7 linked regions of the Homo sapiens genome follow. The protein of the gene in region 6 interacts with the protein of the main gene of each other region in a pairwise test. Each region holds a gene or a part of one and is shown on either strand. Other genes may lie near its edges.

Evidence for each region.
Region 1: the proteins of TMEM218 (region 6) and PIK3IP1 interact in binary tests that used the Homo sapiens proteins (3 or more experiments, as listed by UniProt).
Region 2: the proteins of TMEM218 (region 6) and CLDN2 interact in binary tests that used the Homo sapiens proteins (3 or more experiments, as listed by UniProt).
Region 3: the proteins of TMEM218 (region 6) and NPFFR2 interact in binary tests that used the Homo sapiens proteins (3 or more experiments, as listed by UniProt).
Region 4: the proteins of TMEM218 (region 6) and DAGLA interact in binary tests that used the Homo sapiens proteins (3 or more experiments, as listed by UniProt).
Region 5: the proteins of TMEM218 (region 6) and SLC10A4 interact in binary tests that used the Homo sapiens proteins (3 or more experiments, as listed by UniProt).
Region 7: the proteins of TMEM218 (region 6) and FRMD3 interact in binary tests that used the Homo sapiens proteins (3 or more experiments, as listed by UniProt).

The regions. Positions count from the first base shown.
Region 1 is NC_000022.11:31,289,689-31,293,696, forward strand, and holds the start of PIK3IP1 (phosphoinositide-3-kinase-interacting protein 1 isoform 1 precursor), read right to left. Parts: upstream 2,801-4,008; 5' UTR 2,657-2,800; coding exon 2,587-2,656; intron 1,609-2,586; coding exon 1,492-1,608; intron 1,397-1,491; coding exon 1,277-1,396; intron 12-1,276; coding exon 1-11. UniProt on the Homo sapiens protein: Negative regulator of hepatic phosphatidylinositol 3-kinase (PI3K) activity.
Region 2 is NC_000023.11:106,926,902-106,930,401, reverse strand, and holds part of CLDN2 (claudin-2), read right to left. Parts: intron 2,352-3,500; 5' UTR 2,174-2,351; coding exon 1,481-2,173; 3' UTR 1-1,480. UniProt on the Homo sapiens protein: Forms paracellular channels: polymerizes in tight junction strands with cation- and water-selective channels through the strands, conveying epithelial permeability in a process known as paracellular tight junction permeability.
Region 3 is NC_000004.12:72,030,764-72,034,799, reverse strand, and holds the start of NPFFR2 (neuropeptide FF receptor 2), read right to left. Parts: upstream 2,801-4,036; 5' UTR 2,600-2,800; intron 1-2,599. UniProt on the Homo sapiens protein: Receptor for NPAF (A-18-F-amide) and NPFF (F-8-F-amide) neuropeptides, also known as morphine-modulating peptides. Can also be activated by a variety of naturally occurring or synthetic FMRF-amide like ligands.
Region 4 is NC_000011.10:61,718,391-61,721,890, reverse strand, and holds part of DAGLA (diacylglycerol lipase-alpha), read right to left. Parts: intron 3,155-3,500; exon of another isoform or gene 2,886-3,154; intron 1,780-2,885; 5' UTR 1,736-1,779; coding exon 1,641-1,735; intron 1,213-1,640; coding exon 1,001-1,212; intron 1-1,000. UniProt on the Homo sapiens protein: Serine hydrolase that hydrolyzes arachidonic acid-esterified diacylglycerols (DAGs) to produce the principal endocannabinoid, 2-arachidonoylglycerol (2-AG).
Region 5 is NC_000004.12:48,481,986-48,486,142, reverse strand, and holds the start of SLC10A4 (sodium/bile acid cotransporter 4), read right to left. Parts: upstream 2,801-4,157; 5' UTR 2,582-2,800; coding exon 1,992-2,581; intron 1,212-1,991; coding exon 1,001-1,211; intron 1-1,000. UniProt on the Homo sapiens protein: Transporter for bile acids.
Region 6 is NC_000011.10:125,094,627-125,098,126, forward strand, and holds part of TMEM218 (transmembrane protein 218), read right to left. Parts: intron 3,115-3,500; coding exon 2,980-3,114; 3' UTR 1-2,979. UniProt on the Homo sapiens protein: May be involved in ciliary biogenesis or function.
Region 7 is NC_000009.12:83,311,402-83,314,901, reverse strand, and holds part of FRMD3 (FERM domain-containing protein 3), read left to right. Parts: intron 1-1,154; coding exon 1,155-1,242; intron 1,243-2,926; coding exon 2,927-3,015; intron 3,016-3,500. UniProt on the Homo sapiens protein: Putative tumor suppressor gene that may be implicated in the origin and progression of lung cancer.

The sequences.
Region 1 (4,008 bases), on a different chromosome or scaffold from region 6:
GGAGGTGGTCTCTGGAGATGAGGTGGGAAACAGCTCTCATCAGGGACTGCCCTGAGTGAATTCCACAGCTGAACCTGGCCTGAGTGTTAGGGTAGATGAAGGTGGGTCACCTAAGAATTTCCCCCCACACACAACCCAAAGTCAAATTCTGCCCCAGAGGTAAGATCAGGCCTGAGAGGGCTGAACCATCTCAGGGACAAGGCAAATGAGAGAGGAAGGCCGTAGGGAAGGGCTTCTCTCCTACCTCCCACGTCTTTATCTGTCCAAATCCTTGCTATTTCCCAAGGCCCCTCTCGGTTGCGTTCTTCTGCAGGGGATTCCCCCCACTTCTACTTCAGGAAACAACCCATGCTTCCTTTGAGCAGCTCACATCTAAGCGTACGCTCTGTGCCAGTCCTTAGGTAAAATGTTTTACTTTGTGCCGGGAGCGGTGGCTCACGCCTGTAATCCCAGCACTTTGGGAGGCCAGACGGTCGGATCACCTGAGGTCAGGAGTTAGAGAGCAGCCCGGCCAACATGGTGAAACCCCGTCTCTACTAAAAATACAAAAATTAGCTGGGCGTGGTGGTGCACGCCTGTTATCCCAGCTACTCAAGCGGCTGAGGCAGGAGAATCACTGTAACGCGGAAGGCGGAAGTTGCAGTGAGCCGAAATTGCGCCACTGCACTCCAGCCTGGGTGACAGAACGAGACTCCGTCTCAAAAAATAAAAAATAAAAAATAAATGCTTTATTTTGATTATCCCATTTAAACCTAGAAAACTCTCTTGCTGCTTTGGGAGCAAAAAGCCTGCGCTCTGGAATCTAAGAAACGTGAATTCAAATCTGTCCCCTGCCATTGCCTTTGGTAAATCGCTTAACTTCTCTGAAGCTCAGATGCCTCAAACGACTTCTTCCCGCGGTGTGTGTCAGGGGAGGTTGGGGAGCTGGGGTTGTGAGCAGTGTGGGTCTAGCACACTGCAGACGCTCCGCAAACGGTCAATAAACGCTGAGGGGCCAAAAGCCACTCCTCAGGACGCGCGGCGGAGAGACCTAGCCTCACCCCAGCCTCGCCCCGCGCAGTTGTTTACAAGCGCTCGCGGCGGATGAGCTCATACGAGTGGCGGCGGCGGCCAATAGGCTTTGAGCCCCGCGGCCTGGAGACAGCCCTGGCCAATCGGACGGCGCGGAGGCGGAGCGGGGCCGGCCGGCATCGCGCGGCCGCACGTGCGCCACGAGTGTCTCAGCCGCTTCCTGTCAGCGCCAGGAGCGGGGATTCCCGGGGTCCCGGGCAGGTACCTGGACAGCGCAGGTCCTCGCAAGGCCGTTTCTCAGGGACGCCGGCCTCGCCACTGACGTAGCACCAGGGCCCGCGCGGGTCCTCGTCCGGGTTTCGGCAGTAACTGTGATTGCCGGCCCCTAAGAGAGGAGAGAAGGAAATGTGTGCCGGGGCTGGCACCGGGAACGCGGCCGCCGCCCGCCAGCCCCGGGGCCGTCCCCCGGAGGACACTTACCCGACACGGGGGCCGAGGCCAGCCCGCTCTGCGCGTCCAGCCAGTTGAGGCAGCGGAGGCCCGGCGCGGGGGAGGTCTGGTCCTCCCGGTACAGGTGGCCGTTGTCCCAGAAACAGCCTGTGAGGAAAAGAAGCCCCCGGACACAGAATAGCGGGCAGCGAACGGAAGACGCCCAGCGTGGCGGACAGGGGAGCCGGGACCACCCGGGCTGAACCTCAGCCTGGTTAGGGGACCCCGGGCCCTGCTGGGCCTCCCTCTCCTCTCGTGGCAACACCCCCACGCCCCACGCACCCCCCCCCCCCAACTCCACGCACACCTCAGGGTGTGAAGCCCCCAGCCTGTGCCTGTCCCCCAGTCAACGCTCAGAGACTGTTAGGTTTTATTTATTTTTGAAACCTGGAAAGCGCTGCAGAAGTGCAAAGCGTTGTTACTCTTGAACTTGTGACCACTTTGGAGGAGGAGATGGAGAGGAGGAGGCCTGGCTTAGGGTCCCTTTGAGGAGCTGGGAGTTTTGGGACGGGGGGCGCCCAGACGTGACATTTGTCCCTGTGTTGTAATGGCCACGTTACATAAACTCCGGTGTTTCCTCCTTCACGGATACGGCCACCTTCTGCCCGTTTAAAAGGCAAATACTCCCTCCCAGGAGAATTCTCCAGGAGCCTTGACTCCGTCAGGCAAAAGATTCAAGACAGCCTCAAACGGAGGAAACCGGCCTCATCGCTGACTGGATGAGACTCCAAGCTCCCACTCCCCTCTGCAGGAGAACCACAGAAGGAGGCTGGGGAAGGAGGACCACACCATGCAAAGGGCTTAGAAAGAACAGGACTTGGGGAGTAGGGGAGATGAACCCCCAAGCTCCATCCACTCATGAGCAAGGAAAGGCAGAGAGAAAGTGGCTTCTTGCCTTTGTTCTTAATGGCAAAGATGGAGCTGCAAGCCCCTGACAAGGAAAGGAGGGGTGGAAAAGCTTTCACGGGACAACAGAAACCGGCTAAACGCTTCGTTTCCTGTCATCCTGGCCCTGTTTGGGAAATAGGGGGCTTTACCCCTTCTGTTTCATGAAGTTGCTGCGGAAAGGAAAGATTGTAATCTCACCTCCAGATCCATAGGCTTCTGCTAGGAGCATGTTGCTGACGAGGAATGCTTGTACCCAGGCCAACAGCATCCTTGCCTCCTTCGTCTTGCAGGTGATTGAACGACCAGTGTTTAACCGAGGCCCCCTTGGCGGCGGCTCTGCCTCCCAGTCCCAGCCTTGCAGTCAGACCTGCCCTTGTTATGCTGTTCTGGTAAACAGCCTCTCTTTAGAACTGGGAGCTTCCCAGCTAGCTTGCTGCAGCGCGAGCTGTTTTTCAGCTGAAAGGCGCCCCCTGGGTCCTAAGCCTCCTAGGTCATGCAAAATCTAACTGAGCCAAGAAAGGAACTCAGCCAAGAGATATGCAGGTTGTGCTTAGCAGCCGATCAGTTTGAGACCTGCGAGGCCGCATCCCCAGGGTTTTTCATCTCTTCTGTTTCCATTTGTGTGAGTACAGAAAAAATAATTCTATCAAGGGGCATCATGGGATGTGGGAAATTATAAGCACTAAAACACAGAACAACTTAGGGAGCTATGCACCCAGGAGGAATTCATGACCACATAGGGGGGAAAAAATAAGAGTTTCTGGTGGGGAGTGGAGTAATAGTTTTTTTTTTTTTCTTTTCTTTTCTTTTTGAGACAGAGTTTCACACTGTCGCCCGGGCTGGAGTGCAATGGCACAATCTCGGCTCACTGCAACCACCTGCCGGGTTCTCGCAATTCTGCCTCAGTCTCCGGAGTAGCTGGATTTTTTTTTTCCCTCACTCTATAGGAAATCCATTTGCTGTAATTTATATCCATCATTAAATCTCACCATATCCATTTGACTTAGGCCTTTTGGAGTTAGGCAGAAGGGCCCTTCTTCCTGTTTGGCTGACAGCTCCCAGGCAGCCTCAGTAAACTGAGAGAGAGAGCAGAGTGATTCGTCAAGACTACCTTGTGACAGGGGCACACCACCACAACCCAGCTAATTTTTTGTATTTTTAATAGAGACGGGGGTTTCACTGTGTTGGCCAGACTGGTCTTGAACTCCTGACCTCGTAATCCACCTGCCTCGGCCTCCCAAAGTGTTGGAATTACAGGTGTGAGCCACCGCGTTCGGCCGAGTAACACTTTATACCCATCCTTGAAAAAGAAAAAGGGCCTTTATGAACACTGACACTTAAAAAAAAAAAAAAAAAAAAAAAAAAAAAAAAACAGTGTAACTTGGCCAGGGTCAAATCTGTCACATTGCTTTTTCTTACATTTGAGGTTTTTTGGGGTGTTGTATATAGTAGGACTATAGAAGGAGTATCTTTAGTTGAAAACACATGTTATGCAAACATGGAAAAATTTGCTCAGCTACATTGTAATAGTCTACCCTTTCTGCCAGCCCTAAATTGTATAGAGGAATTTAAGTAAAATGTTTGCTTTTTTTTTTTTCCCTCACCCTATAGGAAATCCAT
Region 2 (3,500 bases), on a different chromosome or scaffold from region 6:
CTGGTGAGGGAAAATACCTTTGGTGTATGACCCCTCACTCCCACTCCAGGGTAAAGGGAACATTTTCGGACCTTAGAGGTGGAACTGTCTTCCTGGGAACCATTCTCCACTCCCACCTCAGCTGCAATCCCAGGCAGCAGTGCAGCTATCACTCAGATCATGGACACAGCACCGTGGGCATGGATATGCCATGCTGGAGCCCTTAGATGCCCTCTAGCCACTCTGGAGCATCTTCCGATGGACAGTGGGGGAATCTGAAGGGGCTCGCTTGGTGCTATGGTCTTTCAGAGGCTCTGTAGTGCTCTGTGGGTGGACCCTGGGGGGGCCTGATCTCATTTGAGCTGATTTTCCATTACGCCTGAAGAGTTTCTAGGGGGCTGCCTCTCACTGGCAGAGTAGAAACACCCACTGGAGCCACCACACACATCCACCTGGCTTCTTAGACACCGTCAAGGAATGGTGTCTTCCTCAGTACCCCACAGCTCCCACACTGTCATCCCCCAGCCAAGGGCCATCCCTAGAAAAACTGGTTTACTGTTCCTAAGGAAACCATTGTCTATAGCCCTTAGCCTTGTGGTTTAGGCAAGAGGCCAGGTCAGGTGCCCTAGAGTGAGGCAGGGGCTTCAGCCAAAGTTGTGATCGCAGCTTCTGAGGCAGTTCCTCAGTGGAGTCAGAGTCCGCTGCCACCTGAGCTTTCCACCAGATCTTCTTTCCTTTCCTTGTGCTTTCCTCAAGCTGCAGGCTTGATCCCAGCCCACAAATATGAGAGAATTCTGGAAAGTGCCCTGAGAAATGGGTTCTGGGTTTTTTTTTCATTTTTATTTTTTTAAATGTCCCAGGCTGCCTTCCTGTCCTCCCATCCTGCATCCTGCTTTCTGTTCCCTGGATACCGTAGGATGGTTTTATTTCAGTTCATGCACAAATTAGTCTGGACACTGTGGAGTCATAACAAGAGTGGGATGGAGGTTCCAGGGCCAATCAGTTTCTTTGGAGGGAAGCTTGAGAAGTAGGTTAGAGCAATGCCCACAAAAGCCACTGCTTCTCCTTCCCATCCCCAGCAATGAGCTAAGAGCCAACCTCAGCCAGAGAGAGGGTCTTTGATCACAGAGGGTCAGTCAGTGGGATGTGATTAGTGGGTTTGGGGATGGAGTCCCAGGTAAACCAGAGGGCAAAGGGATCCTCTGAGTCCTGGCTTAAGGGAATGGGGTTTCAAGTTGAGGGTTGGGGACTTAGGGCAGGGGAGCAGCAAGGTGAGGAAAACAGAAAGGCTGGCATGGCGAGCATCCTTGGCAATTCAACCTGCATGCTGTTACACTAGCCCCCATTTCTGCCTTTGCTCAATCCAATGGCCAAAGTCAGTCTATCCTCAGCAGCACCTTCTGACACGATCCAGTGGTAGTGTCCCTCACCTGTGGCCCTCGGGGTGCTGTCCACTGTTTTTCACAGACCCAGCCACCCCCCAGCTCTGGCCCCTGGTTCTTCACACATACCCTGTCAGGCTGTAGGAATTGAACTCACTCTTGACTTTGGGAGGTTGACCAGGCCTTGGAGAGCTCCTTGTGGCAAGAGGTTGGGCTTGGTAGGCATCGTAGTAGTTGGAGCGATTTCTCTGGGATGAGCAGGAAAAGCAGAGGATGATTCCAGCTATCAGGGAGAACAGGGAAGAAATAATGCCCAAGTAAAGAGCCTCTCCAATCTCAAATTTCATGCTGTCAGGCACCAGTGGTGAGTAGAAGTCCCGTAGGATCCCATGAAGATTCCAGGCAACAGGAATGAATCCCAGGAGGCCTCCAAGGATGAAAAAGACTCCACCTGCTACCGCCACTCTGTCTTTGGCTCGGGATTCCTGGCAGAAGACTGTGCATCTCATGCCCACCACAGAGATAATGCAGGCCAGGGAGGAGATTGCACTGGATGTCACCATCATGGCCTGGGCAGCCTGGATGTCAGCGGGCAGGCCCAGAAGGGTGCTATAGATGTCACACTGGGTGATGCCTGTGCTGTGTGTGGCACATTCCATCCAGAGGCCCTTGGAGAAGCCAACTGCTGTCACAATGCTGGCACCGACATAAGAACTTGTTTTCCAGCTGGGGAGCAGCATGGCAACCAGTGTGCCCAAAAGCCCCAGAAGGCCTAGGATGTAGCCCACAAGTTGGAGGCCAAGAGAGGCCATGGCAGACCTCTCAGTAGAAGCGTCTTCAGGGACTGCTCCCTTGTCTTCAGGCTGAAGCTCTTGCTCCTTGAACACCTCTAATCCCTCATTTCAGAGTCTCTCTGCCAGGCTGACTTCTCTCCTCCTTACAAGTGTCTGTGGGTGGCCACAAGCAGCCTCAAGAAGGCATCTAGAAGACCTAAAAAAAATCCATAAACCAGATTAAATATTGACCAGAAGCTTATGAGAAACCAGAAAACGCTGGATGCCTTTTGACCTTTGTTATCTTTAGAAATAACACATGAGAAAGGAAAAAAAAAACAACTTTGAACGTGGAGCCAAAATGTCATCGCCTCCTGCGTAGGCACATGCCTTAGGTTGGCAGCTGGACAAAGCCAGGAGCCAGACAGGTGGCTGCTTTCCGGGAAGGTGATGATGGCAGTGGTGGTTGTGGTGGCTGTGTTAACTCAAGTGCTAGTCTCCAAGGCCTGCTGTTTAATACATTGCCAAGCAACAGTGCCATAGGGCCCCTCAATTGCAGACTGAGGCCAAACTGCAGACTACATCAGGAGGAACAGATCCTAGAATGTAGTCTTGGACTCCAGTTTGTTAGAGGCCTCTTGAATCTCCAGGGGCCTAGAGAGTAGTGGCCTAGCCCTGGATCATTCTGCCCATGGTGAAAATCTACTCCAGGGTAGATGGGGGTGGGCAGCAAAGCCTTCTGTCCATACTCTGAGAGTTCAGATCCTCCCAGCCATGCCCAAATCCCCCTCTGCAGCCTAGTCTAAGGCCTCCTGCATGTATAACATGCCCAGACATTTCCTGTCCAGTCTCCTAATAGATGCTCCCATCATCAGCCTCTTGGATGATGAGGGAGCACTCTGGAACAAGGGTTCCAGGACTGAGAGGGGGCCCTGAAATTCCCTGGGCCATCTGTTAGGGGGGACAAGAGTCTGCCACAGAGGAAAGGGAAACTGCTCTAGAATATAGGGCTTTGCATGAGGCAGGTATCTGAGTCAATGCTTTGGAATCTCAGAGCCATATAAGATTTTGCCGTGTTCAAGGAGCCCTCGGTGTTGCCAAGATTCAGGACACTAAGGGTCAAGGGCACACCTCCCCATTCTCTACAAGACCCTCTGATCCACTAATTTTTCTTTCTTTCTTTTTGAGACAGGTTCTCACTTTGGCACCCAGGCTGGAGTGCAGTGGCATGATCTCGGCTCATTGCAGCCTCGACCTCCTGGGCTCAAGTGATCCTCCTGCCTCAGCCCCACAAGTAGCTGGGACTACAGGAGCGCATCACCACACCTGGCTAGTTTGTGTGTGTGTGTGTGTGTGTGTGTGTGTG
Region 3 (4,036 bases), on a different chromosome or scaffold from region 6:
TGAAGGTCTCCCTGGACCCTTAATGTTCAGTTTCAAGGCAATTGGAAAATTCATTTAAGAACCAACTTATCCAAAAAGCTGGAACTTAAAATCAAAGGGAAACAGAGAGGAAAAGAAAATCAGCTGTTAACATCAGGTTAATGGTAAGCATAAAATTCATATGTTTAAGAGAACAATTTGTTAAGATTATTAAAATACTATATAAATATTGATATAGTTTGGCCGTGTCCCCATCCAAATCTCATCTTGAATTGTAGTTCTTGTAATCCCCATGTGTCCTTGGGAGGGACTTGGTGGGAGGTAATTGAATCATGAGGACAGCTACCACCATGTTATTCTCATGATAGTGAGTGAGTTCTCATGAGATCTGATGGTTTTATAGGGGGCTTTTCCCCCTTTGGCTTGGCGTTTCTCCTTCGTGCCATCACGTGAAAGAGAACGTGTTTGCTTCCCCTTCTGCCATGATTGTAAGTCTCCTGAGGCCTCCTCAGCCCTGCAGAACTTTGAGTCAATTAAATCTTTTTCCTTTATAAATTACCCAGTCTCAGGCAGTCCTTTATAGCAGCATGAGAATAGACTAATCCAGATGTGTTTTAGGAATGTGAGATTATATTTATTCCATTTTCTTTGAATGTGCTTGACAGTTTTGAAGTCTTTAGCTAAAACCAATGTCCTTTTTTCCATAATAAGGAGGGCAGTATTTTACAAAATTATTATTTTTAAGTATCTGAAGCTTCAAGGCATGAAGTTGTCCTTATTTTGTGTTCCATGTTACAGCTGGAAATCCATTTTAATGCAATACAGTGAAAAGGTTTATAAATATTTATCACAGAGGCATTTGCATGGAATTCTCATAAAAAATCACACTCACTCACACACATGCACACACACACACACAGAGCCGAAGAACAACTACAATAAATAAACTGATATTTCTGGAAGAAATCATTCATTGGTTTATAGTGAATTCATATTTATTCAACCTATAGTCTTTGACATCTGTAAAAGAGAGTATTGGTGAGCAGTATGATTTATAGGAACTATGGGATAAAATAATCATACAAATAAAACAATGAATTTCTAATATATAATTTTAGATACTTTGTAATGTGTTCACAAAATGCACCAAGAATAAAACTGCCAGATGAAACAGACAAACAGATAGATGAAGCAAAAATAAGCTTAAGCCTCAAATGCTCTGAAGTTTTCTATAGACATGAAGAAATCATGGCTAGTAGAAAGATCTTATTGGGGTGTATGGATTTTGGAAAAACACATATTGAGAAAAAGAATAGGATAATGATATATGAGTAACATGTTATTTTCAAGCAATAAAGAAAGCACATTTTTTTATTATTACAATAGCCAGTCTGTAATGTTAATATGTGCCTTTAAATATAGTGCAGTAGGTACTGTTACTGCACTATATTGCATCACTGTTTTATTAAATGATCGATCTATAGAAGTTTTTAACAGATGAAAGACTCTAATTGAACTCTGCATACAATTGCCATTCTGTTGATGATAATGGCACTATTTTTGAGCACATTATAGCCATTTTGCAAATTCATCCATAACTTAGATTCATCATTATTATGATAATTTTACTCAATTTATTATGGTTTAATTAGAAATCCAGATGGAAACAAAAATATGTCCTTCACAGTTTACAAACCATTGATTTTTCCATCCTTCCTCTCATTAGTAGTTCCCACTTGAAAGTTATTTGGATGTGAATGGAATTAGAAATTTAGACATATGTTTAAAACAACTTTGAATATTTGGATTAAAAAAAGGAAACCAGCATCTTTGTATAATTCATGTTATCATTAAGATTTTTTAAAAAGAAATAAATATTTCAAATATCTACACTATAGCTGAGGGGAAATGGGAGATGAACAAATGTATTTTTGGTTTTTAGTTAGTAGTTCTGTCTTTAACTAGAACGACAGCTTGAAGAAGATCATTTTCCTCTCCTCCAGACCCTAAATTTGACCTAGGGCGGCACTGTTGGAAAATGCCTGATGGTTTGACAGAAGAACTAAAATGGTATTGTCTGGAAACCCTATCTCACTCCCAGAAGGGGATAAAACCTCTCCAAACGCCTTCAATAAGGACTCTGGTGTCCTGTACGCAGCTCAGAAACCTGATTTCAGCTTTTCTAGCAAGTGGAAATGCACAAGATGAAGCCTCAGATACACAAAGATCATTGCTTAGAAGCATCACGGATAAAAACAGTTTAGAAACTCGCTAGCTTCAGACCCGCTAAGGAAATTCAACAAAGTTACAACACAATACAGCCCCGGAGAGGGCTTGGGGGGAACTTTAAGGTGAAGAAAGCGCCCCACATCCCTTGACCAGGTCCCTGCTCTGCAAGCCTGGGGCCACAGCCATCTGTGGTGCAGACATCCAGGGCAGAGAAGCCCCCCAGTGTTGGGCCAGTGACCAAGCGGGTGCCTGTGTAATTAGGAAGGGATTTGAAAAATCCAAGGTGTCGGTCCACAATCGCTAATATGTGTCATCAAGGCAAGCGTTGGGCATTAGAGAGGGGTCGCGCCCCCAAGCGGGGGCCCCCAGACAAACTGGCCCATGCTGTTACCTCTCCCGGCGAGCCCTGTCGGCGGCAGGAACCAGAATCCACCAAGCCCGTCTGCAGCAACAGGTTCTGTCCCTGCTCCGGCTCCAGCTACTTTTCGCAGTCTGCCGGCTCAATCCCAGCCGACGTCTGTCCCCCGCGGACTGCCTGCTCCACTCCAGGCTTCCGCTCCAGGCTGGCCCGCCGCGCTGCTGGACGCTGAGTGCTCTGCGCTCCCTCCCCGCCTCCTTGTCCGGTGCAGATGAGACGTCACTTTCCAGGAGGCACCAGCTGGCCGCTGGGGTTCCGAAGAAGCTATTCATATCCCGCTAAGGGGCACCCAGGTACATTCTTGTGAAACTCAGAATCCGAGCGCGGCAAAGAAAAGGAAGCATCAGTATCACCATTACTTGGCTCCAGATCCTGGGCAAGTGATTTAGCCTCTCTGTGCCTCAGTTTCCTCGTTTGTAAAATAGAGATGATGATGATATTAATCAGTAAGTAATCTGAGAATTATTTGTCTACATGCAAAAGTGCCTGGAATGGTCCTGGTACACATTAATCATTACATTAAATGTGAGCTATCATCATCTTTAAGGTTCTAATGGGACTGAGAGATTCATCGCATATTGCAAACCCTCTCTCTGTCTGAAGCAGACCGTATTTTTTGAGCCTTTGCAAAGATCTTTTAGCTTGCAAGCAAACCCCTCTGAAATTCTGGAAATATATTCACAGCATAATCAGAAATGGAAGGGGAAGAACCCTGGGGAGACTCACAATGATCCTAACAACACTATCTGCCCAGTTGGGTCTTGCTAATAGAGAGATGATGACTAGACTTTAATGGATTAACTTAGAGATTTATACAATTACTAAGAAAGGGATAATTAAAGGTGCTTTAAGCATGAGAAACCTGTGAGGAGCCTTTTAGACCTAATCCTCACGATAGCACTCTAGGTTTGTGAAGAGTTGATATATAATTATTTCCAATTCACACAGAGGCACCAAGGTTTAGTGACTTGTCTAAGATTACAGAGGTGGTATTTAAATGAAAGAAAAGCTCCAGAAGCCAAATTCATTTCTTTATCTGCTACATTTCTCTGCCTATATCACTGGTACACGTGGAATACAGAAAAAAAGCCTATGGTGAGACAGACCTTTTAAAGTAGGATTCCTTGGTCTTGGATTAAAGTTGCAGATTTTGACAAGTGTGTGTGTGTGGTGTGTGTGTTTAATGACTAAATTGAGGCGTATTTCTCCCAAGACTTTACCAAGTTCAAGGTAAGGATACTGGTCCCACTTCTCTAAAGTTTATCAGGATACTCAAGGCACAGAAAGTCATAGAAAAGAAAAAGACGTTAAAGAGATAACACAGGAGTCATAGGATAGAATAATAAGTTAGTTGGGTAAAATAAAACTAAGAAGAGAAAAGCATTTTGTATTCAACCTGAAATTCTCAAA
Region 4 (3,500 bases), about 63 Mb from region 6:
ATCCCAGCTCCGACATTTACACGCTTACTAGTTGTGTGAGAGCTAGGCCTGGGCCCCAGTTTCCTCATCTATAAACGGAGACCAATAACACCCACTCCCTGTGAGTTAACACAGGAAAAAGGGCCTAGCCCAGTGCACAGAAGCACAAGAGCAGTGTTCACTACAAATGACCAGAAGGGGCTGCAACCTAAGCCCAAGAAGAGGACACAGGCTGGTCCTCTGGGGAGCTGGCCCAGACTCCTGAGGGGGTTCCCAGGAAGCAGAAGGCCTGTTTTGAGAAGGATCACAAGGAAGATATGCTTTGAAGAGATGCACATGGTTGAGGATGGGGTCAGCACCTTTTCCTGTAAAGGGCCAGAGAGCAAATATCTTGGACTCTGGGAGTCCTACAGTCGCTGTAGTAACTACTCAACTCGGCTGCTGTAGGGGCAAAGCAGCTGGAGACAATACCTTACTGAATGGATATGTGCCAATAAAACCTTATTTTCTTTTTTTTTGAGATGGAGACTTGCTCTGTCACCCAGGCTGGAGTGCAGTGGCGCAATCTCGGCTCACTGCAACCTCTGCCTCCTGGGTTCAAGTGATTCTCCTGCGTCAGCCTCCCAAGTAGCTGGGATTACAGGCGTGTGCCACCACACCTGGCTAATTTTTGTATTTTTAGTAGAGACGGGGTTTCCCCATGTTCGCCAGGCTGGTCTCGAACTCCTGACCTTGTGATCCACCTGCCTCGGCCTCCCAAAGTGCTGGGATTACAGGCATGAGCCACCACACCCAGCCTAAAACCTTATTTAATAACACATACAGCAGGCTGGATTTGGCCCTCAGGCTGCAGTTTGCTGGCCCCTAGTCTAGAATGTAAGCTACAGAAGGCCTTAGTTCACTGCTGTACCCCAGTGCTAAAACAGGGCCTGGCTCGCAACATGTGCGCAGTAAATACTGGCTGAGTGAATGGAGAGGTGGGAGTTGTCTGGGGCAGCACCCCAGGGTGGGTGGCCCTTACCCAGGCGCACGTAGAGCACGTACTGCATGGAGTCACGGGGCTCCGTGTAGAGGATGCCCCCGCGCATGCTCAGCCAGATGATGGCCATCTCAGCGATCATGCAGCTCAGCAGGATGCCCAGGTAGCCGCGGCCGTGGTCCACCAGGTTCAGGGAGCAGGCCTCGTGCGGGTTATAGACCAGGCCGAAGAGCACCACGGACAGGATCACAAACCTGTCACAGGAACGCCCGTGTGAGCAAGGCCAGGTGGCCCCTGTACCTCGAGATGCTACTAGCAGGCAGGCCCTTCCCCAGCCCAGATTCAGTGGAAGGAGGGCTGGCAGCAGGCACCTCCTCCATAAGACCATTGTCCACCTGGCATCGAATGCCTAGAAGGGCATGGGCGGCCAGTAAAAGACTCAGGGTCAGCCATGGGGAGACAGTAGCAGCAACTCCCCCCAGTGTTGGGGTCAGGTCCAGCAATGGTAGCAGGGGTGTCATTGCCCTAAGGGGCTAGATGTTTCAGGCACCTCCTCCGGGCAGCTGGGGGCATGACAGGGTTGGGACTTGGGCCCAAGCAGGGAGGAACAAATGGCCAGAAAGCGTCCTTCCAGACCTTTCTCTCCAAACCCAGGCCTGTGGCCCCGGGCCTGGGGACTCACCAGGTGGTATGCAGGAGAAAGAGGAAGATGGCCGGTAGGACGAGGTCATCACTGCCCACAGACCAGCGCCGCCGGAACACCACGATCCCGGGCATGGCTGGTGGCTCTGCAGAGGCTCAGTGGGCCTGGTGCTCACCTCCTGAAAGAAAGCAGAGGACCTTATAGCTGCCTGAGGAGGTGAAGGCACCCAGGGCCACTGCATTCCTTGGGCCACGGGACCAGTCCCCGGTGTGGCCAGAAGCACAGGCATTTTTGGAGCTGGCCACTGGAAGTGCTGACCCACCTCCGGGCAGGAGCCAACACAAAGGACCTTAGCAGCAGGACACAGACTTCAGCCTTCCCCCTGGAGTCTCTCCTGTCCCCCGAGACTGGTACTGGCCACTAGGGATCGGCTTCTACCTGGGGTTACCCCAGCAGTCACTGTTGAGCTCTATTAAAGACCCCGTTTCCTCCTTCATGGGATCAGTGGGACCCTCAGCCCAGCCCTCAAACCCTATAATCTTTAGACCTGGCCCAGTGCACACTGTCCTTGGAGTCAAGGGAGGGGCTTCCCAGACCAAGAACAAGCCCACCCAACAGCACAAAGCCCAGCAGGGCAGGAGGAAGGCTGAAGGCCTTGGGAAGGTGGGGGCAAGGGACCCTGTATGGTTGGCAGCTGGGACTGACAAACATGGAAGGTGAGGAGTGCCTGGCATAGAGCAGGTGCTCAGTAAGTATTTCTTGAATGAAGGCTTCAGTTTCCTGCTTTGCTGGAAGCCAAGAGCGTGCTCTATGACTTGGTTTTGAACCCATCAGACAGAAGTCCCCACCACAGCTATGCCTCCAGGGAGGGAAGAGCACGGTTGAGGTGCAGGGTCAGGAGTAGGGCTTGGGACACCTTCCACCCCACACTGCTGGAAGGATGGGGTAAGCCCTGCAGGGTCACACCCCTCCTGGCAACCATACCTCCCAAGCCCACCCTGAGCCATGCAGCTTTTCCAGCTGGATTTTCAACTCTCTGAAGTAGCTGAATTCAAATCAGCCCCAAGCAAGCTCAGGAAAGAGTGCCCAGGAACTCAGGGCCCTCACTCCTTAGCATCCCAAAGAGAAAGGAAGCAGCATGGGTGGGAGGTGACCCCACAGGGAGCTAGGTCCCCAGAGATACCCATAAAGGGCTCCAGGGTAGCTCTGCACTAAACTGCTGCAGGGGGCTGGGGACCAAGTTGGTGGGCAGCTGTCCCCCGCCGGGGGCCAGTAGAGGCTTACATGGCACCTGGTCCGGGGCAGGCGGCAGATCCTCCTCTCCCCAGTGGCGGCTCCAGGGAAAATGTGTGTCCGAGGAGCCCGGCATCATTCGGGGAGGAAGCAGCCAAGTCTCCCTTGGCCAGTGGGCATAGCCCCCAGGGTGGGCGAGAGGGCGTGGGGCCAGGTGGCCAGCCCGCATGTCCGCCCGGCCCGCCTCCCTATCCCCGGTGCAGCCACTTGGCGAGCTGTGGCCTGGCGGGCTGGCGGGCTAGCCTGCCGGGGTCGTGCCTACTCCTCCCCCCACCCTCAGGAAGTGACATCATCCCACTCTCTCTCCAAGGAGGAGTCGGAGCTCAGCTTCTGGGAGGCAGGGAGAAGGGTGGAGAGTGAGGGAGCATGGTGGTGGGGTGGCTGGGCTTTGGGGGTGGGGGGTGGTCTGTGGACTGCAGGGGTCCGGGGCGTCAGCAGTGCCTGTGACATGTGGCTGACAGCACCAGCTTCAGATTAGGGTTGGACACGATAGGACAGGAGGGGGGGCTGGGGCACCGTGGGTGGCAGTTGGGCTGGGGCAGAACAGAGCTGCCAACAGCTGGTATTGCCGCCCCCTCCCTGTCTCCAAGTAGCTCACAGAGGGTA
Region 5 (4,157 bases), on a different chromosome or scaffold from region 6:
ATGTCTTCTTGAATCTACATAATTGAAACATTAGGGTGGCTCTTTTTCTCTTCATTTGTCTAAAGGAATTTGCCTGTGCATTTTGCAGTAATAGTTACGTATTTTATTTGATTAATTACCTGAAGTCAGCATCCTGGTCATGGTTTATTCTTTTTTGCTACTGTTTTTGAATTTTCAAAGACAGCTTAATTTTGCAAAGATTTTTTTTCCTCCAGTCAACTACTAGAATCTACTAAACTATTAAAATCTCTACTGCTACAGAAAGCATTCATTTTTTAAAAAATCAAAGCCTTAGGAGAAATATTGCACAAATTATAGAAATCCCCTATCTTTTCACTAGCTTTATAAGCCATATAAAATATTGCAATGGAGAAAGAAAAAGAAACACATTTAGTAAGGTCAACATAACCTCCATTATTTATCCAGGACCCAATTTTATTTTGTGCTTTAAAGCCAATATTTTGTGTGTTCTATTACTACAATGTAACTTTTCCATTACTTTTTGTCCTATTAGTATCAACTTACTTTTAAAAATTTAATAAAATGTTAAAGGAACCTACTACAGAGTTTCTCAGAATTAGAGTTCCATTTTTGAAAAGATAGCCATGCATTTCTAAAATACTGCACCAATTCTATTAAAGTAATTTTATTTAATCTGCTTTTATGTTTAATTATATACAATTAGTGGAAAATATGTTGCCATTTAATTACACTGTCATCTTCCCCACCCTGCTATGATCTGTTTCCTTCCAATGAGTACTGATAGTTCTCTTATGCTGGTTTTGATTAAGCTGTGTCTTAATTAAAGCTGTCATTCTAGGAATCCCAAAAGTGGAAGTTATCTTTGTAGCATAAACTTTTTAAAAAAAATTTTATCCATGCAACTACTTCCAAGTCCTTTTCTTCCTTTCCGCCTTCTCCAAACTTCCTAACATTTCTGCTGTGGGTCAGAGATCAAGGGCTCTCCAAGCTAGTATGGAAAGGGAAGAGGGGGCCTTACCTTCACAATGTAGTCAGCCACCCGGCTGTATTTGTAGCGAATGAAGACGCCCAACCCGATAGGTATGAGAGTGCTGCAGAGAGTCAGGGTCACGGTCCCTAGGGGTAGTAACTGCACGATAGGGGTGTTGATCCAAGCCCAGCTGTAGATCCACAGGCACAGGGGCATCAAGACGAGGGCCAGAAGCGTGGAGGAGATGGTCATGATGATGCTGCAGAAAAGGGAATGTGCAGAAATCAGAACGAGCTTTGAGTCAAACAGCCAGCTAACCTTTTTCTTGTATGTTGAGTAGAGGTGGAACGGGGAGACTGCAAGTCCCGGGGTTGAAGTCTGGGCAGAACCTACATCCGAGGAGAGTGCCAAGAGAGCAGCACGTCTAACACCGATGGAATTATGAACCCAAGGCAGGGAGGAAAAACAAGCCCCCTGTCTCGGTACTGCTGCCCTCGACATTATAAAGTCTATTGAGCCTGGATGATTCTGAGGGGAAGGAACGTTCTTCCTTGCAAGCCCCCTGCAAGGTAAGCCATGGTAAAGCTGCTGACTGCTACTTGTTGGTCGGACTCAACAATCCTGCACTCTATGTGAGATTACTTTCTCTGACGGGCCAGTAGCCCTATTTTACTTTTACGTTGCCGGCGAGTTCTAGTTCAGACTCCCCCTTCTCTTTGTCTTCCACTGGACAACGACCTGCGCTGCCACCCCGACGCTCGGGGAGGACGGCGAGGGACCCTGCTGAAGGGCCGCGCTGCGCATGGAATCCCAGCCTTGGAGCAGCTCCCTCGCCGTCTAGCTTGCTCCCCTAGCAGCACAACCTGCAGGTCGGCCTTGACTTCTAAAGCCGGGGCGTCATCAACTTCCTCTCCTTTTCTCCTCCTTCCTCCACGCCTAATTCCAACCCCTCCACTGCCTCTGTCCTTCGTCGTGAGCCCACGGCCGTAAACGCGCGTCTGGGATGAGACAGATGCCCAAGGAATAGACAGATCCGTACCTGAGGTTCATGTCGCCGTCAACCAGCAGGGACATAAGATTGGAGAGATTGCCGCCGGGACAGCAGCCACACAGGAGCACCGCCACGGCGGCCACCTCGTCCAGCTTGAAGGCGAGGGCCAGCAGGAAGGCCAGCAGCGGCAGGAGGCCGAACTGGCAGAGCGCTGCCAGCAGCGCGCCCACGGGCCGACGGACGTGCGCCCCGAAGTGGTTCACGTCCACCGTGCAGCCCAGGCCCAGCATGGTGATGCACAGGGCGGCGCCCACGAACACGTTCAGCCCGTGGTTCAGCGGCGTGTCCCAGAACGGGAGCGCGTGGGGCGCCCAGGGCCGAGGGAACGGGGAAGGGCCGTGGCTCGCCGCGCCGCCCGCGAGGCCGCTGGTCGTGGGCTCCGGGGTCGGAGTGGGGCCGGGGCTGAAGCCGAAGCTCGGACCCGGCCCGAGGCTGAGCCCAGGGCCGGGGCCGGCGCTGGAGGCAGGGGCGAGGGCGAGGTCCGTGCCGGGGCCCAGGCTGCTGGCATTGGGCGCCAGGGTGTAGTTGTCCCGCAGCAGAGGGGCGAAGAGCAGGGTCACGTTGTCGTTGCCGTCCATGGCGCGGCCGGAGCTGCGGATTCCGGTCCCCTCCCGCCGCGTGCCTCTCGCCGTCCCGCGGTCGCCGCAGTCGCCGCCCGTCGTTCTGCCCGTCGGTCTCCGAGCCCCGGCTGCGCGCCGCTGACGTGCTCGGCGGCGTCGGGGGCGGCGGGCCGGTCTCCGCTCCCAGGTCTGCAGCCGCCCGCAGCCTGGCACTCCGCGCAGCGCGGCCCCCCGGGTGAACCCAATCGCTGCGCCGGCTCCGCGCCGCGGCCCCGCGCCCCGCAGGCCCCGCCCCGCCCTGCCGCCCGGTCCCCTCCTGTGAATCGCCAGTAAGTGGTTCTGTTATCGAGTGTAGCCAGGGGCGGAACAAAGACCTGACAAAGGACCAGAGCAGGAAAAAACCGTTCCTGGCTGCCGATCAAGTTCTCTGATGGGCTCTGCCTCTTTATAATGAAATCTGGAGACCCAGACACACAAAGTGGAGGGGGCGGGTGGATAACCTCATCGATGCACGCTCATGGCAGAAACTGTTCCTATAGCCTGCAGCCCTAAGAGGGGTGCTTGACTTAATATGAGCGATTCTCTAGTAAGCAGGACACGATATCTGGCTTGAATTTGCAAACAATTTTTTGCATGATTTTCAGTCTTAAAGTAGAATGTAATAATAATATAGCGGGTTTTGTGCAAGTGCGTGTGCATTATTTCATTCGATTCTTACAGCAAAGCCGTGAGATAGATACCATTTTTACAAGCTCGATTTTTACAAACGAGGAAACTGAGGAACGAGGAATTCTCAGTCTTATCAACCGAACCCACAAGTACCTGGCTGAATCTGCACGGCGATGTGTCCCTAAAGAGGGCAGAGAAGAGCTTGGCTAATAACAATTTCCATGAAAAATGTGTGTTTAAGAAGTTATTGGCAGGTGGAGAGAGGATATTTCAGTGGCCACAGATTTACGAAGCTTTATGAGTAAGGCCCTGGCATTAGGATTAAAGGACTGAAAAGAAATAAAGTGCTGAGATTCCCTGCTTGAGACAGGTTTATCCCAAAACAATTCAAAAGCAGAGCTCTTAGGAATGGAGATGCAACAACTTTTAAGTCAGTCACTAGATGGCATGTAGAAAGGAAAATAATTTCGCTGCTTACCAACCAGGTGGGGCCTGTTAAGGAGGCATCTAGCTCCCTGGGGGTGACCATAAAGTGATAGTCAGTTGAGTTGTAAAAACCAACAGGAATTTCTAGAATGAAATCAAGGCTCAGTCTTAGCCCAGGGTTGCTTTCACAAGGAGCCAAGATATAGTGAATTCTTCTATCTGGGAACTTTTCCCTAACTCCTGTCCTGGCACAGAGTGACTTCTATTACCCAAGGGTGGGCTGAGCCTTTCCTCCTCCCCAAATCTCATGAAGATGATGGAGACTATGAAAAGTAAGACTTTGCAAATGCAAAGCATATTGCACTCTTCATCACAAATAATTTATTTTTTCTCTTTTGGACTGTAAATTCCACGAGGGCAGAGCTTTTGCAAGAATCTAGGAGGATAATGTACCCTTACACTTTTCCAAAACACTAAACCCAGAAAAAAAAACTTCAGT
Region 6 (3,500 bases):
CTCATCTGTAAAATAATCACAGCAGGTTTCTTTACACATTGAGCAAAAAATAAACCAGAAACACTTCAACTGCAACAACCATGAAATAGAGTTGATACTAAAGTTTCTGTTAAATAACAGAACAAAAAATGGATTGCTTTATGTTAGAATAAAAACATTTAAAAATAAATTGGATGCCCTCCTTCCAGGAAGCAGTGAGGAAGACAGTCTAGACACCTTACAGCCTAGTTCTTCCATGGGCTTACTCCACCAGGACTAGTGCTTTACACCCTACGGGCACACAATATATGCTGAATGAATGGCAGGATTCGAGAATGAATGGCTATGTACTCCCTAGTCCCTGGACATTGGTATGGTAATTCTGATGCAGTTTTACATTAAATTTACATTGTACACAAAGAATGGTAGCTTTACTTCCATTTTTATCAGTGAAAAATTTAAGGAACTTAACAAATTACCCATTGTGATCTCCATTGTGGGGATAGGGTGGTATCCTCCTAATTCAGCTTTTGTCAGGATACAATTTTAAGACGCCACGAAATAACCTATTTTCTTATATAGAAACCCAGATTTACTCTCCCTCTCCACCTTCTAAACAGTGGGGATCACCAGTCTGCCACAGGATCCCCTCTGGGTAGGGAACAGTAGAGGGAACATGTTCTAAGGCCACTGATCACAGAATGGTTCTGAACACTAAGATGACTTCTGTCTGTATTTAAGGAATGACCTCTGAGCCCTGTCTCCAAGAAGGCCATGAGCATACAGGGTACCATAACAGACATTGACTATAGGGTTATCCCATGCCAAACTCTCAGTGAAATCCATTTTGAGCCCTCTCAGCCTTCTACGTCTTATCCCAACCCTGCGGGGCTTTTTTTGCATAACTGCATTGAGTATGCAGGTAGAAAGAAATCTATCATTCATTTCACCACAGCTGGTAATTATAGACTCCAGGTCTGTAGACTGTAGGTCAAGTCAAGCTGAAATAAACTTTGCACAGGGTATTTTTTTTTTTTTCCTAAAGCCAATCTTTAACATATATGCCTTTCATTTACATCAGGCAAAAAAACAAAAATTAGAAAACAGTAGTATTAAGGATAGAATTTAGTTTCCAACCTTAATACACTTTCCTCCATCTAAATAGTCACCCAAAACCTCATAGTTATTATCCATTGATCTAATAGTTGAATAACTTTTGGGGGGAATAAAAAAGATGGATTCATGGTCAGGAACCTATAAGAGTTTTCCCAGAGTTACTTTTTTAGCAAGGCTCTCAGAAGAAGGTAACAATTGGCAGCTTGTGCTTGTTAGGAGCCAAGCTTCCACTTGGGCTGCAGGGAGACTCACAATAGCATGAGGCCCCCAGCTTGTCTCAATTCCCTCAAGACTTATGCATTCTTTTTTCTCTCCCTCAATCTGCTTAGAGGATGTTTCTTCTTTTCTTACCTGTGTGCCCTAGGCCAGATTAGGAAACTATTTCCTTTGAAGTTTTCTGTACAAAGCCTTATCTGCAAAGTTTTTCCAAACTAAGTAAGATAAAGGAAATGGTTCAATGTAGGGATAACTATACCTGGCCCTCACCAGCCCATGACTCTCAGTGGTTACCTGTTCTCTCTTCTTGGAATTTAGAGCTTAGTTGCCTGTGGGGTGGCAGGACTGGGTAACTTCTCTACCCTGAAAACAGAATTGAGGAGAGAAAGTGAAGGAACAGTGTGGCCTTAACCTACCTGAAGCTCTCAATCAGAGTTCCACAAACCCTAGTGTGTTTTCTCTCTGAGACAAGCCCTGGGGCCTACCACACCTGGGTTTGCACACTGGCTGTTAGGTGAAGGTTGGGCAAGTCAGCTGATCTCTTTAAGCTTCCATTTTTTCTACTTTAAAGTGGGGATGATAAAAATGAGACCGTTGTAAAAATTAAATAAATTAAACCTCAAAGGAATTAGTGTGCTATTGGCATAGAGCACATACTCCATCAGTGATCTCTTTCCAACTTGTTTTCTTGGTTCTTAATTTTAAGCCAGAAGATTCTTTTTCAAATGGCTCTAGGGAGTCAGGATCAGACTTCCAAAGTGGAACCTGACCAGGGCCCCTCCATTTAATGCAAATTTCATTTGGTCTGGGAGATCAGACAGGTATAGAGTTATATCTGATGTTGAGAATATACCTTCCTCACTAGCTTTGGAGAAAGGGCTACAAAGATGAAAAGTGAAGACACCCCAAAATGGACTCATGGTAATTAAATAAGGCACACACAGCCCACCACATCATGGAAGAAAAAAACCTACAGATACATGGCAAGACAAAAAACAAAAAACAATATTTCCATACCTTTCCTCTAATCCCAAGGAAACCTAAAGAACTTGATTAAAAAGCCGTGGCCAAGAGTTCGAAGTGAAAGTCAGCCCTTTAGCTATTATTTATTGCTTTATTAGAGCAGAGGGAAGTGACACTCATTGCCTTCACAGAGCTCTGCAGAAATATATGCACAGAGTGGTCAATGACCAACATCTGAGTAAGTCTTCCAAATTATCACATTAAAATAACCTTTCAAATTTGAGTGCCTCTCCTTTGCAAACAACTGCAACCTCATAATGAATAATTTTATATATTATCAAAAAGAACCAGAAGCCCAGGTGCTTTTTTCCCCAAAATCCACTTACTAAGGACTTGAGTGAAAATCCACTCTAAGCAGATCACTGTTACTATTTCCCTTTCAAAACAGTTGGAAATCCTAAGGTACGGGTACTAAGAAGATAGCAATATCCTTCTTAAGCTGGTAAGAATCTAGCCCCACAGGGACAATTTGGCAATCCTGTTTCTGGAAGCCAGGACTCCAGAGATTTGTCTTAGTGATGGACAGATACTCCTCTAACCTTAAGGCATGAGGGCTGTCAAAACAAGGCTCTGAATAGTGCCTTCCTGCTCATCAATGTCATCACAATGAAGGAGAGAACAGGTTTTCGTTTTCCTGAAGAGTGGTCAGTAGGAGTGCAGTGGTTTGGCATAGATCGGCTCCAGAACATAATGGATTAAAACCAAGAAGAGGCCTCCAAGGAAGATGGCACTAAGGAAAGCCAGCAGGACATAGCGGCCAATGAAAAAGTCATCCACAATCTGGAGAAAGAAAACATCAAAATGAAATTACTACCAGTTAGACACCCTGGCTGGGTTAACCTGAACTCCATGATGAGTGGGCCAAGAGTTAGTTCATGTGTATAACTTCCAGTAACATCCTGCCCTGAGTCTCCTCTGTACATGAGAAAAAAGAATCTTTTCCTCAACTCCCTGAGCAGGAGACACAAGAAGGGATTAATGAGGGACAGGGAACAAATGGCTCAATTTAGGATGTTGGTAAACACTTTGAAGTCCCTGGATGAATTCTTTTATATTCTGAAATCTGTTACCTGAAAGAGTTAATGAGAAGCTTTTGCATGGTCCTAGAAAGGCTCATTTTTGTTGTTGCTAAAATACATTTTATTACGGAGAATTTTAAACATACA
Region 7 (3,500 bases), on a different chromosome or scaffold from region 6:
TCAAGACCCATTTATTAGGGCCTCTCAAAGGAGATAAGAGAGAGAGTGGGAGAGAGAGAGAGTGGTGGAGGAAGTGGGGAAGGGAAGAAAAGAATCAAGAAATAGTCAAAGAAAGATATGCATTGTTGGATTAAAAGGATCTACACTGTGCGGATCATGATGAATAAATAAAGATGCTCCCTAGACATACCACAGTGACTTCAGACGTATCAGTGTAACTCCAGTGCACTAAAGGTAAAGAGATTGTGAAGGGCTCTAGGAATAAAGTAGATGGGATACTGTTTTGATTTAGAGGTATGATGACTCTTTGCTATCTTGAGGGGGTGGGGGGACAATCCGTCTTTGGGAAGGAAGTTAAGTGGAGATAGATTTAATATTGCAATATAATTTTACATTTTGAAAATAAAATGAATTCCTGTTGTTTTCTCTGCTTGGTTGCTAGAATTACATAAATATCCTTGGGGAATGATTGAGATTCTCTAAAATACATGTAGGATATTAATATTAGTCAAAGTGGGGTCTTTGAAATGTTGCATAGTCTTTCTTTAGATGTTAGCCCTGAAAGGGCTTCGCGGTCATCTATATTTGCAGCCCTTTTCTCCCTGAGGCCAAGACCTTGTTTACCACCTCGCAGGACAGTGCTAGGACTAGTGGTTGAGATTTCCTTTTGAAGTCCAGGGCTCTCTGTGGGATGGTTGACAATTCTTTTGGCCTTGATGGCTCTGTTTAGGCTTGTTGATGGGGTAACAGGATTGTGCATTTTTTTCCCTGAGCAAGAAGGCATGCCATTTAACCTGGATAATGTTTTTAAATTAGCAGAAAGAACAGATGATTAGTTTTATTTCGTATTAAGGTTGAATTTGCAAGGGCCTGCTTATTGGTAACTTGATAACCTTGATTAACTGTACGGATCACTGGAGCGCTCAGAGTGCGTGTGGGTTTGTTATGGAACAATTAACTAGAGAACACAAGCTCGGGTTCCTTAGTAAAGGACTCCTTGTGGTGAGAAATAATGATCAGTCTTACTGATTACTATTTATGTAAGGGTTTTTCTCTTTATTTAGCTTAGAACACCATACTTTATTGAATGAAGGGATTCCGAGTTTCTATTCTTTTCCATTTTAACTGCCTCAACTTTTCTTGTGTGATTTTAGGGGGCAGAGCCCACCAGTTGCTGAATTTAACTTGCTCCTGAAAGCTCACACTTTGGAAACCTACGGGGTGGATCCTCACCCATGCAAGGTAACTGCCCCTCACAGCAGGTCACCATATAATGGTTGTTTTGCCCAAAAGAGAGTTTATCTGTGCGCAGGCCTGGCAGAGCCTTGTTAAATCTTTCCCACAGCTTGGCCCACGGTCCCTCATTGGAAGGGACAACAGTGGGCTGCTGTTACATGTTTTGGCAGCTGATTTTCTCCATTGGAGTCTTCCAATTGTTCATTGATTGCCATGTAGTAGCCATATTTTCCTAAATTAACATCCATGGATTCACTCATCAAATGGATGGTTTGGCCCCTGAGGAGTTACAGGCTCCTGACACATTTACTTTCAAGGCCATTGCCAGCAAGAATGGAGTCTTTAAAAAATGGGAAAGTGGAAGGAAAAAAAAGAAAGATTTCAAGTTGCATTTTGGCATTAGGAACACTTGTTTTTATTTTTTCCTTTACTCATATTTGACAGTGTTTCTCTCAAGGATGAAACACAGACTACTTATATCAGAATCTCCTGGACCTCACCCCAGAGCTACTAAATCAGAATTCTGGGGGTACAACTGGGGAATCTGCCTTTTTAATCAAGCTCCCAAGGTGTGATACTTATAGATACATTTTCCAGAAATGTTTCACTGAAGCAACGTTCTTCTTTCCATATATTAGACTATGCATCAGCCAGACACTAGTCCTAATCCTAAACTAAGCATTTTATCAGTTAGGCTCTTAAGTATAAGTTTTGGAGTTTTAGTGGCAAATTTCTTTACCCAGATTGGACTGCCTAATCTTATTTGGCAAAGCATTAGTCCTATAGGTCTCAGCTTGGGCTGCTCATTAGAAACACCTGGAGAGCTTCATTAGCACCTGCTGACCAGAACACATCCCACACCAATTACGTCAGGATCTGCTGGGGAGGAGGGCGGGGCGGGGCGCAGGGCGGCGGAGGGGGAGTGGTGGGTGCGGCGACCAGGCTACCCAGGTGTTTCCAATGTGCAGCCAAGGCGGAGAGCCAGGGGTACTTGTCCATACTAGCATTTACATCCTCTTGTTCTGCCTACGCAAATGTTGGAATATTTACCAGCGGCTCTTTCCTAGAATGGTACTAATCAGTTTATTCATTTTAGTGAATTTTATGCAGAAATTTGAACTGTATTTTATTTATTTCTTGGAGACTGACTTGATCTTTGTGTTGTTATTCCTTTGCCTTCACTTATCTACAAGATGCTTAGTTTTCCTGGTCTAGGCTGGAAGCACAGTAAGCTTTTCTGGAGATATTTTTATACTGAAATTTCCAGAAATCCTGTGAGAGATTGAATCAAAATTAGATGCTCAGGGCTTTGGTTTCATCACGTTAGAGTGCTAATGGCAAGCAAGAACAGTTTTCTCACATTACAAAGCAGACCTAGAACACAGGCAGCCCCGGAAGACACTGGGAAGTAGACATAGTGATTTGGGACTAATTCATATTTTTCCAGGAGGTTCCTAGAGGGCAGAAGGTCCGCTCCTCAAAGGGAAAAGCTACATATTCCTGAACTTCACCCAGACTTTGAAAGGCCTGCTCTTAGAAGTTCCATCTCAGAAACTTAGTTTATTGCTACAATCATTGGGATTAGTCTAAAATTAACCTAGGGTGAGGATGAATAAATATATTGGTTATCATTTATTTTATTTTTCTCAATCTAAACAGATTTTTCTTTTTTCTTTTTTTTTTTTTTCAGGATTCAACAGGCACAACAACATTTTTAGGATTCACAGCTGCAGGCTTTGTGGTCTTTCAGGGAAATAAGAGAATCCATTTGATAAAATGGTAAGTGCCTCTTTGGAAAACTGGCTTTCCATTTTTCTTAATCTTGATTCCTCCGTCCCCTCCTTGGCTTCTCGGGCAAGTGTCAGGTAGAATGCCTGGTATCCATTTCCTTGCCTTGGAGCTTCATCATAAAGGGATGTAACATCTAGGTTGCCTTTGGTGGGGACTTGGATTTGCCAAGCTGAGGAGTCAACTTAGGAGGCGTGGGCTCAGGGGCTCTGCCTTCAAAGAGAAGGTATCCAGTGTTTCCTCACCAGTAGCTTCTACTGCTGTGGCCAAGGGGGGCACACGGATGGGTCAGGGCAGGGTAAAGGTGTGAGTTCCCATGAACAACTCAGGATCCACTCTCCCCAACTCACTTCTTTCCACTCTTCTCCTCTGTTGAGTCCTGGGTGCAAACTCACCCTTTGTTATCCAGTGTATCCGTGAAGATGCTTTTGGCAAAAGGTAGTAGGAATGTCTACTCATGATGGCTTACAAATAAG